3 separate regions of the Homo sapiens genome follow, and regions 2 and 3 are each linked to region 1. The links come from fine-mapping of genetic effects on gene expression. Tissue or cell type: whole blood. Region 1 holds a variant in brackets; each other region holds the start of a gene. All regions are shown on one strand. Distances are between the middles of the regions.

Region 1 (5,827 bases):
ATAATGAACCCCCTGTACACATGTCCAAGCTTCATCACAATGCCCATCTATTTCATCTATGCCCCTACTCATACCCTAGATATCATATAATTTCATTTCTTTATTTATTTGAGATGAGGTCTCACTCTGTCACCTGAGCTGAAGCACAGTGGCACAATCTTGGCTCACTGCAGTCTCGACCTCCTGGGCTCAAGCAATCCTCCTACCTCGGCCTCCCGAGTAGCTGGGAATATAGGTGTGCAACACCACGCCTGGCTGATTTTTGGTTTTGTATGTAGAGATGGTGTCTCTCTGTGATGCCAAGGCTGGTTTTAAATATCTGGCCTCAAGTGATCTTCCTGCCTCCGCCATCCAAAGTGCTACGATTACAAGCGTGTGCCACCATTGCCAAGCCATATAATTTCTTTTTTTTTCTTTTATTTTGTTTTTGTTTTTTGAGACAGGGTCGCGCTCTGTCACTCAGGCTGGAGTGCAATGATACAATCTGGGCTCACTGCAGCCTCCACCTTCCAGGTTCAGTCAGTTCTTGTGCATCAGCCTCCCGAGTAGCTGGCATTACAGGCGTGCGCCACCACACCCAACTGATTTTTGTGTTTTTAGTAGAGACGGGGGTTTCATCATGTTGGCCAGGCTGGTCTTGAACTCCTGACCTTAAGTGTTCTGCCTGCCTTCTCCCAAAGTGCTGGGATTACAGGCACGAACCACCACGCCCAGCCCAGATAATTTCATTTTGAACAAATACTTCAGTATTTGTCTCTACGACATGAGGATTATTTTTTAAAACATAAATCATAAAAACATGACCGCATCATTATTTTATAAACCTAGAATTCTAAATCTAGTGACAATATCCTTCAAAAAATGAAGGTGAAATAAAGATGTTTTCATATAAAAGCTGAGAAAATGCATCACCAAGAGATGCACACTAAGTGAAATGGTAAAGAAAGGTTTTTTTTTTTAAAGCCAAAGGGAAATTATCTTAGATTTAAAAAAAAAAATGAATCTGAGGAAAGAAATAAGGAGAACCAGAAATAGTAATGTGAGTAAATATAAGATTATTTTTGAAAATAGTTAAAAATTAAAGCAAGAATAACAGTAACAAAGTATTATATTTGTGACACGTAGAAATAATATATGACAACAACACCACAAAGAGCTGGAGTGAGGTAAATGGAATTATATTATTATGAGCTTCTTTTCTTTTTTTTTGAGACGAAGTCTCGCTCTTGTCCCCTAGGCTGAAGCGCAATGGCGTGATCTCGACTTACTGCAACCTCCGCCACCTGGGTTCAAGCGATTCTCATGCCTCAGCCTCCCAAGTAGCTGGGATTACAGGTGCCTGCCACCATGCCTAGTTGATTTTTGTATTTTTAGTAGAGACGGGGTTTCATCATGTTGGCCAGGCTGGTCTCGAACTCCTGACCTCAGGCAATCTGCCCACCTCAGCCTCCCAAAGTGCTGGAATTACAGGTGTGAGCCACCGCACCTGGCCTATGAGCTTCTTATATTGTACAAGAAGTAGTGTTTGGGTCAACAGGGATGTTAAAGATGCATATTATCATAATCATTAGAGTTGCCACTAAAGTTAAACAAAGAGGTATAGCTAAAAAACCAACAGAAGAGCTAAAAAAGAAAGTAAAAATTGCTTTATTCAAAGAAGGCAAGAAAGAACAAAGAAAGTTGGGAAAAATAAGAAACAAATAGCAAGGCGAGACAAATAGCAAAACAAATAGCAATGGTTAGACAAAAGTCCAACCAAATCAGTAATAAAATTAAACATAAATGTACTGAACACTCCAATTATAAAGTAGAGATTATCAGGATAAAAATAAGACCTGGCTGGGCACGGCGGCTCATGCCTGTAATCCCAGCACTTCGGGAGGCTGAGGTGAGGGGATCACGAGGTCAGGAGATTGAGACTTTCCTGGCTAACACGGTGAAACCCTGTCTCTACTAAAAATACAAAAAAATTAGCCAGGTGTGGTGGCAGGCGCCTGTAGTCCCAGCTACTCCGGAGGCTGAGGCAGGAGAATGACGTGAACCCAGGGAGCGGAGCTTAGAGTGAGCCAAGATGGCACCACTGCACTCCAGCCTGGGTGACAGAGAGACTACGTCTCAAAAAAAAAAAAAAAAAAACCTAACAAATACTTTTAAATACAATGAGAGTGGCTGGATGTGGTGGCTGACATCTGTAATCCCAGCACTTTGGGAGGCTGAGGTGGGTGGATCCCTTGAGCACAGGAGTTCAAGACCAGCCTGGGCAACACGGTGAAACCCCATCTCGTCATGTGGGTGTGGTGGCACATGCCTGTAGTCCCAGCTGCTTGGTGGCTGAGGCTAGAGGATCGCTTGAACTTCTGGAATTGGACGCTGCC[G/A]TGAGGCAAGATTTCACCACTGCACTCCAGCCTGGGTGACAAAGTGAGACCCTGTCTCAAAAATATTAATAATAAAAATAAAACATAATAAATAAATAAATAAATAAAATAAATAAAATAGTGAAAAACACAACATTCCAAAATTTGTGGCTGGGCGTGGTGGCTCATGCCTGTAATCCAGGCACTTTGGGACGCTGAGGCAGGCGGATCACCTGAGGTCAAGAGTTCAAGACAAGCCCGGCCAACATGGCAAAACCCCGTCTCTACTAAAAATACAAAAATTAGCCAGGCGTGGTGGCGGGTGCCTATAATCCCAGCTGCTCGGGAGGCTGAGGCAGAAGAATCACTTGAACCCAGGAGATGGAAGTTGCAGTGAGCCAAGATTGTACCGCTGCACTCCAGCCTGGGCGACAGAGCAAGACTCTGTCTCGGGGGAAAAAAAAAAAAAGGTGTGGACTGGATGCGGCGGCTCATGCCTATAATTCCAGCACTTTGGGAGACCAAAGTGGGAGTATCGTTTGGATCCAGGAGTTTGGAGACCAGCCTGGGTAACATAGTAAGACCCATCTCCTACAATAAATAAATAAATAAGTAAGCCAGGCATGGTAGTACATGCCTGTGGTTCCAGCTACCTGGAAGGCTGAGGTGGGAGGCTATCTGGAGCTCAGGAGGTTGAGGCTACAGTGAACCATGACTCTACCACTACGCTCCAACCTGGGCAACCTCAGAGTGAGACTCTATCTCAAAAAAAACAACAAAAAATTGTGGGATATAGCTAAAGAAATACTTAGTTGGAAATATGCAGCTTTAAATCCTTATATTAGAAAACAGAATGTGGGAGGATAGCTTAAGGCAAGGAGTCTGAGACCAGCCTGTGCAAAATAGCAAGACCACATCTCTACAAAAATAAAAACAACCAAAAAATTTGCTGGGCACAGTGGCTTGTGCCTACAGTCCCAGCTACTCAGAAGGATGAGGCAGGGGGATCCTTTGATCCCAGGAGTTTAAGACTGCAGTGAGCTCTGATCGTGCCACTGTATTTCAGCCTCGGCAACAGAGCAAGACTCCGTCAAAGAAGAACGAAATCTAGACGTATCGTAAGAAAAGGTAAGAAGAGGGAGGGAAGAAGGGAAAGAGAAGAGTTTCTAAAATCAATGATCTGAAATATTTAAGAACTCCAACAATCACAAATAAAAAGACAACCCAATTTTAGAATGGATAAAAGATTTGGATACACACATCACAAAAGAAGAGCTACAAATGATCAATATGCATAGAAAAACGTACTTGACACCATTAGTCAAGGAAGAAATGGAAATTAAAACCACGAGATATTACTGACAATGCTGAATTGGCAAGAACGTGAAGCAACTCTCAAATACTACTAGTAGGACTGCAAAATGGCAAAAACACTTTGGGAAACTGGCAGTTTCTAATAAAGTCAAACACCTTCCCAGCGATTTCACTCCTAGGTATTTACTCAAGAAAAATATGTCCACAAAAAGATATCACAAGAATGTTTATAGCAGCTTTACTCATAAAAGCCCCAGACTGAGAAACAACCAAAACATTTATCACCAAGAGAATGGATAAACAAATTTTGAGATATACACAGCATGGAATATTTCTCAGCAATAAAAAGGAATAAAATACTGATATAAACAATATGGCTGAATCTCACAAACACCAAATAAAAGAAAAAATCAGACACTAAAAGCTAGATATAAGAGTACATACTCTATGATTTCATTTTAGGAAGTTTAAGATCAGAAACAGTTATAGAAATAGAACTAAACAGAAATGGTTACCTACCTCTGGGGCTGGGAGAAGGGAGGTGTGCATTGGCCCCTTATGGGGTCCAGAATAGAAAAAAAAGTTCCACAATTTGGGTCATATTTACATGGACATGATGCTATATGGAACAGTGTTTACAGAATTGGTAATTAAATGAGTGATCTAGCACAACTTCTCTCCATAAAATGCTCACATTTGGGCTGATATATATATTTGTCAAATTTCAACTTCTACACTTAAGATCAGTGCATTTTATTCTAAGGAAATTATACTTCTTAAAATAATACTAAAAACCCCCCAAACTCTGAAATTTTAAGCAAGCCATTATTGAAGTAGATACTAAAAACCTTTTTAGCTGCCCATTATCTTAAAATGTTATCTTACCAGCAACAAAACTATTGAGAAACGTAGTACATCTCTTGGAATCTCGAAACATTACCTCTCTGGAATGCTATATATGTCATAAGAAAATCTAGACATATCATAACAAAAAAACTGGAGAATTGACAAAAACGAATTGACTACATTTTAAAAGCAGATTTCAAAATAAACTTTTAAAAGGATAGATTGTTGTCCAAGAAATAATGACAGCTCACTGTGTTAAATAGTATACTTTCAATTATGGAGGGAAAAACCAGGCAAGAAATGCAGAACCTGGAACTTAAGAAGTAAATATGCAAAATTTAACCCTGGCTGGAAAGAATTGCTATTGAGAAGGTATGAATGAACTATTAGCTCTTGAGACTAGTAGCATGAACCAATGGAAATAATCAGAAAGGATATACTATAAAACATCATTTTAGTTATAAATTTTACCCAACCTTATGATATAGTTTGGCTCTGTGTCCCCACCCAAATCACATCTTGTAGCTCCCATAATTCCTATGTGTTATGGGAGAGAACCAGTGGGAGATAACTGAATCATGGGGGCGGGCCTTTCTCATGTTGTTCTCATTATAGTGAATAAGTCTCACAAGATCTGATGGTTTTAAAATGGGAGTTTCCCAGCACAAGCTCTCTCTTTGCCGGCTGCCATTCATGTAAGACATGCCTTGCTCCTCCTTGCCTTCCACCATGATTGTGAGGCCTCCCCAGCCATGTGGAACTGTAAGTCCATTAAACCTCTTTCTTTTGTAAATTGTCCACTCTCAAGTATGTCTTAGCAGCAGTGTGAAAACAGTAAATTGTTACCAGGAGTGGGGTGCTGCTGAAGATAACTGAAAATGTGGATGCAACTTTAGAACTGGGTAACAGGCAGACGTTGGAACAGTTTGGAGGGCTCAGAAGAAGACAGGAAAATGTGGGAAAGTTTGGAACTTCCTATAGACTTGTTGAATGGCTTTGACCAAAATGCTGACAGCAATATGGACAATAAAGTCCAGGCTGAGGTGTTCTCAGATGGAAATGAGAAACTTTTTGGGAAATGCAGCAAAGGTGACTCTTTGTATGTTTTAGCAAAGAGACTGGCAGCATTTTGCCCCTGTGCTAGAGACTGGTGGATTTGTACTTGAGAGAGACGATTGTACTTGAGAGAGATGATTTAGGGTATCTGGTGGAATAAATTTCTACGTAGCAAAGCATTCAAGAGGAGACTTGCGTGCTGTTAAAGGCATTCAGTTTTGTAAGGGAAGCAGAGCATAAAAGTTTGGAAAATTTGC
Region 2 (5,827 bases), 73 kb before region 1:
AGAAATACCATAGTGACAGAACCATTCGAAGACCCTGCCCTGATGGAGGCCCCGGGCCAGGGGAGGAGGCACAGTCAGGCTGTCAGCTGAATGGAAAATTACACTTTCGATGAGTCTGTTATCGAGTAGAGATTAGTGGGGCCAAGAACTAATCTGGGGGGCAAGTGATCCTTCCTGAGCCCTGAAGAGTAAGCAGCTGTCAACTAGATGAACGGGGAGAGAACATTCCAGGCAGAAGAAACAGTAAAGATCCTGCCGTGGGGTGAGGTGGAGCCGGGAGAGGGCGGACAGGGACCCTAGCAAGGTCTCAGAGCACGAGGGAGTTCGAGCTTTGCCCTAAGGCTTGGGAAGCCTTTGGAGGATTTGAAGGCTGGAAGTAACACCATCAGATGTGGGTTTTGAAAAGCTCCCTCTGGCTGCCAGGGAGAATGGGGTGGGCACGGGTTTGAGAGCAGGGAGCCCAAGGACCAAGCTTTGCTGTTGTTTAGGAGATGAGATGACAGTGGCTCTGTCCAGAGTAGTGACTGTGGGGATGGATCCAAAGGGTGGATTTGAGTTTAGGGGGAATTGACAGGTCATGGTGGCTCGATGTATGAGAGAAGTGTCAGGGCAATTTTGTGGCCTGGGCACCTGGCTGGAAGATGGGGGCATGGATGCTGAGTGGGAGAAGTGTATTTGACAGAGGGAAGGTGAGGAGTTTGATGTGGACCTGGCTGGGATGGAAGTGGCTGTGGGAGGATGGGGCAGAGGCCTCTGGTTGCACAGGCACCAGGCTGGCATTCGAGGCCAGAGCCTGGGATGGAGGTGTAGACCATGGGTGGGGGCAGGGGGAGTCCAGGCAGCTTCTGAGAGGCCAGACCTTGCAGGGTCAATTATGGGCCCTGAGGTGGGGGCCCTGAGGAGGGCCTCTCCAGTGATTGTGATCCAGAGCCAGGCAGGGGCGTTCCTGTCTTCCAACAACACCTGCCAGCAGTTCAGGGATCCTGGGTTTAGGGGGAGGTACCCAGCAGCGCCTCACACCCTCTCTCTCCCCCCAGATCCTGCTCATCTCTGATTACTTCTATGCCTTCCTGCGGCGGGAGTACTACCTCACACATGGCCTCTACTTGACCGCCAAGGATGGCACAGAGGCCATGCTCGTGCTCAAGTAGGCCTGGCTGGCACAGGGCTGCATGGACCTCAGGGGGCTGTGGGGCCAGAAGCTGGGCCAAGCCCTCCAGCCAGAGTTGCCAGCAGGCGAGTGCTTGGGCAGAAGAGGTTCGAGTCCAGGGTCACAAGTCTCTGGTACCAAAAGGGACCCATGGCTGACTGACAGCAAGGCCTATGGGGAAGAACTGGGAGCTCCCCAACTTGGACCCCCACCTTGTGGCTCTGCACACCAAGGAGCCCCCTCCCAGACAGGAAGGAGAAGAGGCAGGTGAGCAGGGCTTGTTAGATTGTGGCTACTTAATAAATGTTTTTTGTTATGAAGTCTACCCTGAGACCACATCTGCATTGCACTCCTAGAGGGGGTGGCCCCTAATAATGTTCTGGAACACTACACACAGGTGTGGGTTTCCAGAGCGAGCACCGCGGCCACAGAACACAAGTCTGTGCGCCAGAGCCCGGGGATGGTGCGGGCAGCCCCACCAGCACCCTCCCCACTCCCAAGCAAGCGGCTGGAGGCACAGGGCCAGGCAGGCCTGAGCAATCTTTATTCTGCAGAGGGACAATGACCACAGATCCATACACCACGTGGAGACCGAGGGGCGGGGAGCCAGGGGCCAGTCTTTCAGGGGTGGGCAGGTCCAGGCGGTGGGCAGAGCCTCGGGTGGGTGAGGGGCAGATGGGCAGACAGGCAGGGGCCTAAAAAAAAGATGAACCACACAGCAGGGGTGCTGGGAGCTGCTCCCCACCCTCCCCCATCCCACCAGCCAGCACCCAGAGGGACAACCCTAACACGACCGGCCCAGGATCCACCCAGGGGCAGAGTAGGTGGGTTGGTGCCCTCTGACTAGGGGGGCACATGCCTGCCCAGCCCACCACGGTAGAGGCAGCTCAGTTCAGGAACCAGGAGCTCTCTGGGCAGGGCCTGACCGGGGCCGCCCGACTCCCAGGCCGAGCCCCCCTACTGCTGGCTCAGAAGCCGAAGGTTTCCTGGGAGGCGTAGACCATATAGAGGAAGCCGTCCTCGTCTTTCTCCTGCTCGTAGATGTCCGCGATGGGCGTGGACACACTCACCATGCTGTGCTGGTTCACCAGCAGGAAGAAGGCCTGCGTGGGGTTCAGCTGCAGGCGGCGCCTGCAGCCGGCGGGAGAGTATGCAGCTGTGAGGGGCTTGGCTGCGGGACGGACATAGCCCTGACCCCCAGAATGATTCCCAGCCTTTCACACCCATTCTCACCCCAGCTGTCACCTCTGACCCAACACCGACTGCAGCCCCGACCTTGACCTTTCCAGCCACCCCAGAACAGGGGCCCACCGCCCGGTCCCATCACCCCTGACCCCACTCCCACCCCTTCTCGGCGGGAACCCGGCTCCCCTCCCGACCCTAGCCACCTCCTGGCGGCGGCTGCCCACGCACCGGATGATCTTGACCAACTCGCTCATGTTGACATGGTCCGGGACCAAAAACTTGGTCTTGTCCAGGACGGGCAGCTGCTTCTCACCCTTGTAGCGCTCGATGATCACCTGGGAGCAGGGCGGGCGGGCAGGGGGTCGTGTCGGGAACGCGCGAGGCGGGGGCGGGGCAGGGCTGGGGGTGCGGGACTCACCGGGATTTTGCTGGGGTGCTGGTCGCGGATCTGCTGTACCTCCTTACAGCGGTCGGCTGCGGACAGCGGCCAGACCGTGAGGCCGGGTCGGGCCGGCCCAGGTCCGCCCCGCCTGTCCCGGAGGGGCGGCCCCCGGCCACGCCCCAGCTCCAGCCCCCACCCCCGGGGCCATCAGGCCCCACAGCCCCTGGCACCTATCGCGGTGGGGAAGCGGGCAGCCCCCGCCCAGGCCGGAGCTGGTCCCAGCCCGAGGGTCCAGCCAGAGCCTGACGTCACGGGGCTGACGTCACCTGCGGCAGTCGGGGTCGGCCGGCACCCCTGCCCCAGAGCTCGCAGCTCGCCTGCCGGGCCTCACCGAAGCTCCGCCGCTGCTTGAAAGGCCGGTCTGAGGGCATCGCGCGGGCCCGGCTGGGCGCGCAGGCCGGGGCTCTGGGGCGCGGGGATGTGTCTGCGGTTTGGGGGCTCCGGGGGCTCCGCGCCTCGCGCTCAAGGGCTCCGGGGCTCGCGCTGAGCACGGCGGCTGCGGCTGCGGGAGGTAACTCGCCCGGTGACGTCAGGTCACAACATTCCTTAAAGGGGAGGCCAGTGCGCCGCTCCCATTGGGCCGACGCACAACCCGCCCGCCCGGACCCGTGACGTCACGGCGCAGAGAGCCTGGGTCCGCGGACCGGGACGCGAGGGGCGGGGCTTCTGGGCGCGTCACAGTCCCGTGACGTCATGGGCAGCGCGGGAGCTTCTCCCGCAGCCCGAACTCAAGGTAAGGCCCGGAGGGCGGTGGGGCCGCCCTAGGCCGATGGAGCGGGCGGGCCAGGCTGCAGCCCCACGGCACCACTTCCCGCCCTCACCGAGTCTGTGTCAGGACTGACGCGGTTCTGGGCGCCGTGGGAAACAGCCGGAGCCAAAGGCCCGGCGCCTTCACGGGGCTTAGGGCGAGAGAAGGGAGAAGGTGCGGGAGGCACAGTCAGACACAGGATAGAACAGGATGCTAGAAATGAACGCCCAGGTTTGAAAAAGAATAATATAATTGAAAAGTAGAGCCATCGAAATTCAGGTCTCAGAGGATGAGGTGAGAAGGCAGAAAAGGACAACAGAAGAGAAATCGTGGACCTGGAGGCTGATCGGAAGCAGCTCACCAGAGAGACAGGTGATGGGGAATAAGGAAAAGGGCACAGATGGCAACGCCAGGAGAACTCGCGGGCCCGAGCAGAGCTCCAGAGGCGAACACTGAAAGACCTGCAGAGACAGTTCCTGAAAAAGAGCTGCCAGAAATGATGCTTAAAATCCAGAGCAGAATGCGCAGACTGAAGATCAACATTTTTTTGGGGGAGGGGGGAGGGGGACGAAGTCTCGTTCTGTCGCCAGGCTGGGGTGCAGTGGTGCGATCTCAGCTCACTGCAACCTCTGCCTCCCGGGTTCAAGCGATTCTCCTGCCTCAGTCAGCCTCCTCAGTAGCTGGGATTACAGGCGCCTGCCACCACCCCCAGCTAATTATTGTATTTTTAGTAGAGATGGAGTTTCACCATGTTGGCCAGGATGGTCTCGATCTCCTGACCTCGTGATCCACTCGCCTCGGCCTCCCAAAGTGCTGGGATTACAGGTGTGAGCCACCACGCCTGGCCGCCGAAATAATTTTTAAAGAATGTAGTTTAGTAACAAGGACATGGAACCCAAAAGGAAGAAATTAGATGGAAAAATGGTGAGCAAATTGGTAAACATGTGAATCTAAACAAGCATTTAATATGCAATATGAATAATAATGATTAATTTGTGGGCCACAGAAACAAGATGCATGAGACACAAGAACATGGAAGACTGAGAGGGCAATTTGAGAGGGGGTTAAAGAGACTGAGCATTGTCTGGCTTTGTAAAGTCAGGTGTGTATTTCAGATATTTAAGAGGATCACCAAAAGAATACAAACGGAACTATAACTGCCAATGCAGAGAAAAGGGTAGTGATGGGTATTAAAACTATAATGGAAGGCAGAAAGGGAGAAAAAGGAAGCAAAGTAAAAGGGATGGTAAATATATAGTACAAAACCAGAGGTAGAAAATGTGGTTTACATTCACCTCTTAAAACACAGATGACCAGATTGGCCAAGAAAAAATAAGATGCAGCTCTATGCTATTTACAAGAGGAAATTTAAAACCTAAGGGCACCAAAAAGTAAAACGATGGGAAAAGGTGTACTAGAGAAAAACTAACCAAAAGATGTACCTATAGAAAACTCAGACAAAATAGGCCTTCAGGCAGAAGACACTGGGGATAAGAGGATCAACATGAAATGATGCGAGGAGGAACTCTGTGAAGAGAGGAAAGTTCTGAACTTCTATGTTCCAGGGTTTTTGTTTTTAAGGCTGAAAATAGGCCAGGCGCAGTGGCTCATGCCAGTAATCCCAGCACTTTGGGAGGCCGAGGTGGGTGGATCACTAGAGGCTGGGAATTCAAGACCAGCCTGGCCAACATGGCAAAACTCTGTCTCTACTAAAAATACAAAGATTAGCTAGCTGGGCGTGGTGGTGCACGCCTGTCATCCCAACTACTCAGGTGGCTGAGGCACAAGAATTGCTTGAACCTGCTAGGCGGAGGTTGCAGTGAGCTGAGATTGCGCCACTGCCCTCCAGCCTGGGCAACAGAGTGAGACTCTGTCTCGAAAAAAAAAAAAAAGAGGCTGAAAATATATTAAGAACACAAGGAGAAATTGCCAGGTCCTCCATCATAGGGAGACATAAGACCTCTTTGAGTAACTAATAAACCAAACAACCAAAAAAAAAAGGACATAGAGGATGTTAATACAGTTACTAATCAAGATCAATGAACCCCAATAGAAAACCTGACAGTTAGTTTTTTAACTTTTAAAATTTAAATTTCAGACCTGTGTGAGACCAACACATTATTTTCAATCACACAAGGAACATTTACAAAAATGACCCAACTACTAGGGTGCACGACAAATCTCAACAGATATCAAATCAGTTTCAACCATATTCTTTGGCCACAGACAAAAGCCGCGTAAGCTCCAGCTGTGTGGAAATTTAAACCTATTCTAAATATGAAGTCATATATAAATAAAAATT
Region 3 (5,827 bases), 220 kb before region 1:
TCAGAGCTAGTAGGAGACAAAGGTGGGATTGAATCCACACAATCAGATTCCAGAGGCAGCACCCAGAATCACTATATTCTATTGCCTTTTCTGGGTGTCTGTCTGAATTTGATATTTTCAATTTGGTGGCCAGGGGTCATGGTCCATGTGTATTTTTCTGGGAAAAAGGACCTTGGTTTTCATCATGATTTCCTAAACAGCAATCTTTGACCCCAGAGATTAAGAACCACTCCTGGAGCCTGTGTGGTTTGAAAAGCACTGGCCAGCAGAAATCCCATAGAACTGCTACCATCTTACCATGTGATTTGGCACACCTCGGTTGTGTCTGTCATATGAAGTGTAAAGATGGCATGCCGGCAGGCCCTCCCCCCTCTGACCCCCTTTTCCCAGGCTCCTGTTCAAGGGCAGCATCCAGGGGTAGGAGGAAGATCAGGTTGCTTGGGCTCAGTGAGACAGCAGGTCAGTGGGAGGTGATGATGAAGGGAGGGAGCTGTCAGTTCCCAGGAGCCCTTAAGGATGAGCACTGAGGGTTGGACCCAGACCGAGGTAAGCCCTTAACCAATCCTTCCCTGGGTGAAGATGAAGAGGGAGGCCCCCTACTGCAGAAATGGAAACACCAAGGTGGTAGCTCTAGATCTACCCCCTCCCCATGCCAGCCTACCTCAGGACTAGAGCTTGGCTGGGGGCTGCTGGCCATACTCCCCCAGTACCTGAAGCCTGACTGACTCTCCACACCTGTTCCCTAAAGATGCTCAACGGTTTTGCTGCTGAGACACTTGTCACCATTCTCTAAGGGTGTTTCCACACTTCCTGTAGAACTTCCTGGGGGCATGTCCAGACTTCCCTGAAGGCATTTCTCCTCTTTCTGCTAATCCACCTGCAGTATTGCCATGCTTATTGCTACCTCCCCCATTCCCTAGAAATGTTTTCACACTTGCTGCAGAATCACCTCACTTCCATACCCTGAGAATATTTCCACATCTGCAGACTCACAGTAGGCTTAAGATGCTGGCTTCTCTGGTGGGATGGGGGTGGGAGATCTACAGGGATTAAGAAGGTGGGGCCACCCCCAACTAGTGTCCACCCAGCACAATTCATGTATCCCAACCCATATGTAGCCACAGGGAGCTAGTGACTCCATTACCAAAAGCCCAGAAAGTTTGGCCCCTCTTGAAGGAAGGGAATATCGAGGCCTTGATGAGGCACATCCTCCTTCCAAGAACCTACTAATTCATGGAATATGAAAGAGAAGTTAAGAGCTGTTTCAGGGACCATCATATTCACCCAGCCCATTTTAAAATCTGATGATCAGAAAGAAGACATAAATCTATCCAAAAATACATGGCTAGATAGTGGCAGGGCAGACCTAGTCCCACGTTACTGTGCATCCAGTCCAGAGTGTACACAGTCAGGAAAGACTCAGCAAACAATCCCCAAGAATACAATGATGCAGGGGTACAGGGAGGTGAAAAAGACCTTGACCTAGCCACACCACCCCTCGCCTAGCTACAAAAGGGTCTGGGGTTACTGGCACCAAGATTTAGCATGCATTTACTGAAGACCCACTGTGTACCAGAGCCTGCACTGTGCCTCCCCAAATTTCAGATAGGTTTAGGGGAGGGAGGCTCAGGGGAAAAGCTCCCTGCCTGAGGTCACACAGCAAGTCAGTGACAGCCAGGAGTGAAAGCAGTCACCAGCCAGCCAGTGCCTGCCCCCTCTCCTGACCACTTGGGGAGCCTCCCAGATTTCCTTTCCCAGCCCTGCCAGCTTCCTGGTTCTCACATTCCCAGTTCTGCTCCAGGGAGAACCATTCCCTTTAATAACTACAGCAGCTCTGCCCAGAATAGCATTTGTGCCCTAAGCCACCCCTACCCCCAGCCCATCCTTGAGCAAACTCCCAGCAGGAATGGAGTTCCTGGTTCAGCCTCTAGGCCCATCCACTTGTTAAGTCAGAAACTCTCCTTATCCTATCCCTTCTCCTATACTCTCTGTGGGCAGAGGTGACGAGGGAGCAGCAAAACACCTGCAATTGTCTGCACTAGGCCAGGTCAGGCCCTTCCTAGCTGACGACCTAGGAAGTTGGGAAGGTAAAGGGCCAATAGAGGGAACCCTCACCCCACCCTCCACCCCAACATCAGCCCTGGAGACACCCCGAGGCAGCCAATGACTCACCTCTCTGTGATCCAAACAGCTGGGAGGCAGCGATTTTATTGGACTCTAGGACTTCAAGGTACAGTGAGGACAGAAGGGGTCAGGACCACAAAAGGTGAACCAATCTCCAGAGATTCCCTGGAAAAGGGTCCAGGAGTAAGGACACCTAGGAGCCTATCAAACCGTGATAAGGCTGAGCCCAAGATCGGGTCCCCAGTGGAAGGAGGATGTGTATCTTACCACTTGTACTGAGCCCCTATTATGTCTTTGCCCCTGGCTAATAATCCATCTGTCACTCAGTGAGCATGACTCTAATTGGTTATGTGACCTCGAGAGAGCTAATCCTCCTCTCTGGGCCTGTTGCCCCTTCCATGCACTGGGGTCTAAGACCCTTCATTTTGGGTCTAGGAGTGACATCAGCTAAGGCGCTGCACACAAATCAGGGATTAGGAGGATGTTATTCTGTTAGTCCCTGGGGGCGGAGTCTGGAGCCGGAGGGAGGGGATCCCACCACCATCTGGTGCTGTCCCAACCACCTGGAGTCCCATGCAGCCCTGAACTCCTGACGACCCCCTCAACCTAGGCCCAGCAGCGCCGTCTGACTCCTTCTCAGGTTGCAAAGAGAAAGTAGGGGATCAGAGGCCTGACCCCAGCCCCTGGATAAGCCTAGGAAATCGCCGATCCCCCTGCAGCCCCCTTTGGATTGCAGCGTCTCACCCAGGGCCCAGCCCCGACACAGCGGCTACCGGGTCACGGGAGGACAAGCGACCCGAGCCTGTGGGGGCGGTACCGGCCTTGGTGACGTCTCAATGTCATATGCAAATAGAACGACGTCATGGTCTACCGGGCGTGCGGCAACCAATCGGGAGCCGGGAACGCGGCCCCGGCGGCCGCCGGCGGAGACAGACAAAGGCCCGGGCGCGGGGGGCGCAGGGCGTGTCCGTGGCAGGGGAGCCCCCAGGCCCACCCGGGTCGGGACTCACCTGGGGGCGGGAGGGGGGCGGCACGGCGTTGAGGTAGTTGTGCGGCGGGGCGTCCCAGGGTCGCCGGCCGCTCACAGGCCGGGCCGCATCGCCGGGACTCGCGGGGGAGGCGGCGGGGCCGCGGTCGCTCCGGGCTGCTGAGCTCGCCCGCGGGGCTTTGAGTCTGTGCGGCCGCTGCGGCGGGGCTCACGGCACAAATTGGAACGTTCAAACAGCTGATTGTGACGTCACAAAGGGGCCCGCCCGCCTCGCGTCACCGGCTGGCGGGGCGGCGGCCAATCCCGGGCTGCGGATCCCCCCCTGCCCCTCCCCTCCCCTCCCCTCCCGGTTTGCGGGCCGGGCGCTCGGGCCGGGAAACGTTCTCGGAACCGGGAGGGTGAGTGTTCGGGGAGGCAGCTGCGGGGAGCTGGGAGCCCTGCGCCGCGGCGAGCTCTCCGCGAGGAGGATCTCCACTCCCTCCTACCGGCTCCTTATTTTCCTGATTCTTCCCGGATCGCAGCGCCCTCACCTCTCCCACTGCTCCCCAAATCCTTTCACTGCATCCTATATCCAAGTCCCCCGATGCGGACCCTGTTCTCGACCCACACCACGTCCGTGCACCTGCATTCTCCCCACTGCCCTTATTCCTGCTCTCCCTCCCCCCTCTGGCTCACCTCCTCAGCCTTACACACTCTGCTTTCCCACCCCGTTTTTCCTCAGCTCGGCGGGCTTGAGAAAAGAGGGACATCCCCAACCCCCGGTTCCCGGGGAGCATCTGGGAATGTAGAGAAGTTAGTGAAGCTGACGTGAAATTTCGCAGAGTAGGACTTGGAGAGGAATTGCCCTGGGCTGAGTAAACATTGACCTGAGACGGCTCCGCGCTTGAACGTTTACATACCTTATTTAATCTATGTTGCTACCGGGGCTGTAAAGAAGTGGCAGGACAGGGACTGATTATGAGTCCTGATTTACACGTGGGAAAGCTGAGTCTCACAATCTCACTGTTAGCGTGTGAACTCATGTTCAACAATGCATTCAACATTTATTAGGCACCTACTATTGCACCACCATACCACTAGCTGACATGTATTGGCACACTTACTGTGTGCCACGACCTGTGCTATGGGTGTGTTTTTTTATCTTCACAACAACCCAAAAGGTAGATATTGTCCCGTTTAACAGTTGAGGAAACAGACTCAGAGAGCTCAAGTGACTTTCTTAGGTCACAAAAGTACAGTCAATGGCAGAGCCAGGATTTGAACCCATAGCTCCCAGCCCTGACCCTCTCCATTCTCTACATGAACCAGATGGTCTAAACCTCAGGGCGCTTTAGCCTCCCCAGAGTCCTGGCTTTCAGTCCTGACTGTGCCCTAGACTTGCTGTGTGACCTCAAGTCATGTTACCTCTCTGGGTCTCAGTTTGTCAAACAAACATATCCAGGCTTCCCTCTAGAGCTGCCATTGTAAGATTCTTCCACACTCTCTGCCCTCAGGATTCCACCCACCCCACGCTCTAGGCCCCAGCTCTCCCAGTGGCCTGGGAGATGCCCGAGAAGAGACCACAAATACACATATCAGAATCTCCAGGGCCAGAGGTTCTAGGTCAGCAGAGCAGGGCTGGTGGGGGAGGGTCCGAGAACTGCCCACCTAGCCCAAAAGGAGGCCGGAGGTGACCTAGGCCAGAGGTTAATGATCTAGTGATAAAACTTTTTTTTTTTTTTTGAGACGGAGTCTCGCTCTTGTTGCCCAGGCTGCAGTGCAGTGGCACGATCTCGGCTCACTGCAAGCTCCGCCTTCCGGGTTCACGCCATTCTCCTGCCTCAGCCTCCCGAGTAGCTGGGACTACAGGCGCCCGCTACCACGCCCGGCTAATTTTTTGTATTTTTTGTATTTTTGTATGTTTAGTGTTAGCCAGGATGGTCTCGGTCTCCTGACCTTGTGATCTGCCTGCCTCGGCCTCCCAAAGTGCTGGGATTACAGGCGTGAGCCACCGTGCCCGGCACTCTAGTGATAAAACTCTATCCCAGCCTCATCTGAAACCCCCAAGGGACTCCTTAACCCTAGCGACAGGGGAAGAAGCCAGAAAAAAATAACCCAAGGCTGAGGGGTGGAGAGGGGAGTGGCATTGTGGCCCTTGGAGTGTTATACCCAAAGTGTCCTCATTCCATGCAACTCTGAGCCTCTGCCCATCACAGCCACTTCCTGCTAACCTCATACCCTTTCAGACCTACTTGCTGACTTTAATTAAATAATCCCTAACACGTCTCTCCTGTCAAGCCACTTGTTTGTTCTAAAACCTGATGTGGCTCCTAAAGCCCCACACTCCTAACACAGAACTCATGCCCCCCATGCTCCGGCCCCAGTTCTCTCCAGCTTCACCTCCCCTTCTCCTACACGCATCTTGTGCTAAAGTCAAACTCCTTGTTGACTCTACAGCACTCTCCCACCTCCACCCTTTTGCTCAAGCTGTTTCCCCTGCCTGGAATGCCTTCTTCAGAACTTTCTGAAATCCAGATCTTTCCTGTCTTCAAGATTCTACTTGGCCAGGTGTGGTGGCTCACAGCCATAATCCCAGCACTTTGGGAGGCCAAGGCAGGAGGATTGCTTGGGGCCAGGAGTTTGAGACCAGCCTGGCCAATATAGCGAGACCACTTATCTGCAAAAAATGAGAAAATTAGCCAGATGCCATGCACCTGTAGTCCCAGCTGCTTAGGG

Evidence for each region. PIP is the estimated chance that this variant, and not a neighbour inherited with it, causes the effect.
Region 2: it holds the start of MAP1LC3A, and the variant in region 1 is fine-mapped to the expression of MAP1LC3A in whole blood (TOPMed, PIP 0.98).
Region 3: TP53INP2 starts here. The variant in region 1 is fine-mapped to the expression of TP53INP2 in whole blood (TOPMed, PIP 0.96).

Annotation. Positions count from the first base shown.
Region 1 is chr20:34,483,322-34,489,148 of GRCh38, reverse strand. All of the region lies in intron 20 of ITCH (itchy E3 ubiquitin protein ligase), which reads right to left. Among named protein-coding and RNA genes, the nearest start is that of MIR644A, 20 kb to the right of the region's middle. The variant G/A (reference allele first, on the strand shown) is at 2,376.
Region 2 is chr20:34,556,190-34,562,016 of GRCh38, reverse strand. It overlaps MAP1LC3A (microtubule associated protein 1 light chain 3 alpha), which reads right to left and starts at 3,299. Exons shown (of 4, transcript NM_032514.4): 1 at 3,109-3,299; 2 at 2,754-2,809; 3 at 2,564-2,670; 4 at 1,672-2,281. The coding sequence starts at 3,148. The coding sequence ends at 2,119. PIGU (phosphatidylinositol glycan anchor biosynthesis class U) reads left to right here. Exons shown (of 12, transcript NM_080476.5): 12 at 1,038-1,475. The coding sequence ends at 1,151. RefSeq lists silencers at 1,494-1,543, 3,118-3,167, 3,508-3,597.
Region 3 is chr20:34,701,820-34,707,646 of GRCh38, reverse strand. TP53INP2 (tumor protein p53 inducible nuclear protein 2) reads right to left here and starts at 3,303. Exons shown (of 5, transcript NM_021202.3): 1 at 3,135-3,303; 2 at 2,173-2,289. It overlaps LOC105372599 (a long non-coding RNA gene), which reads left to right and starts at 3,465. Exons shown (of 2, transcript XR_936690.3): 1 at 3,465-3,510; 2 at 3,834-3,988. RefSeq lists a silencer at 3,028-3,507.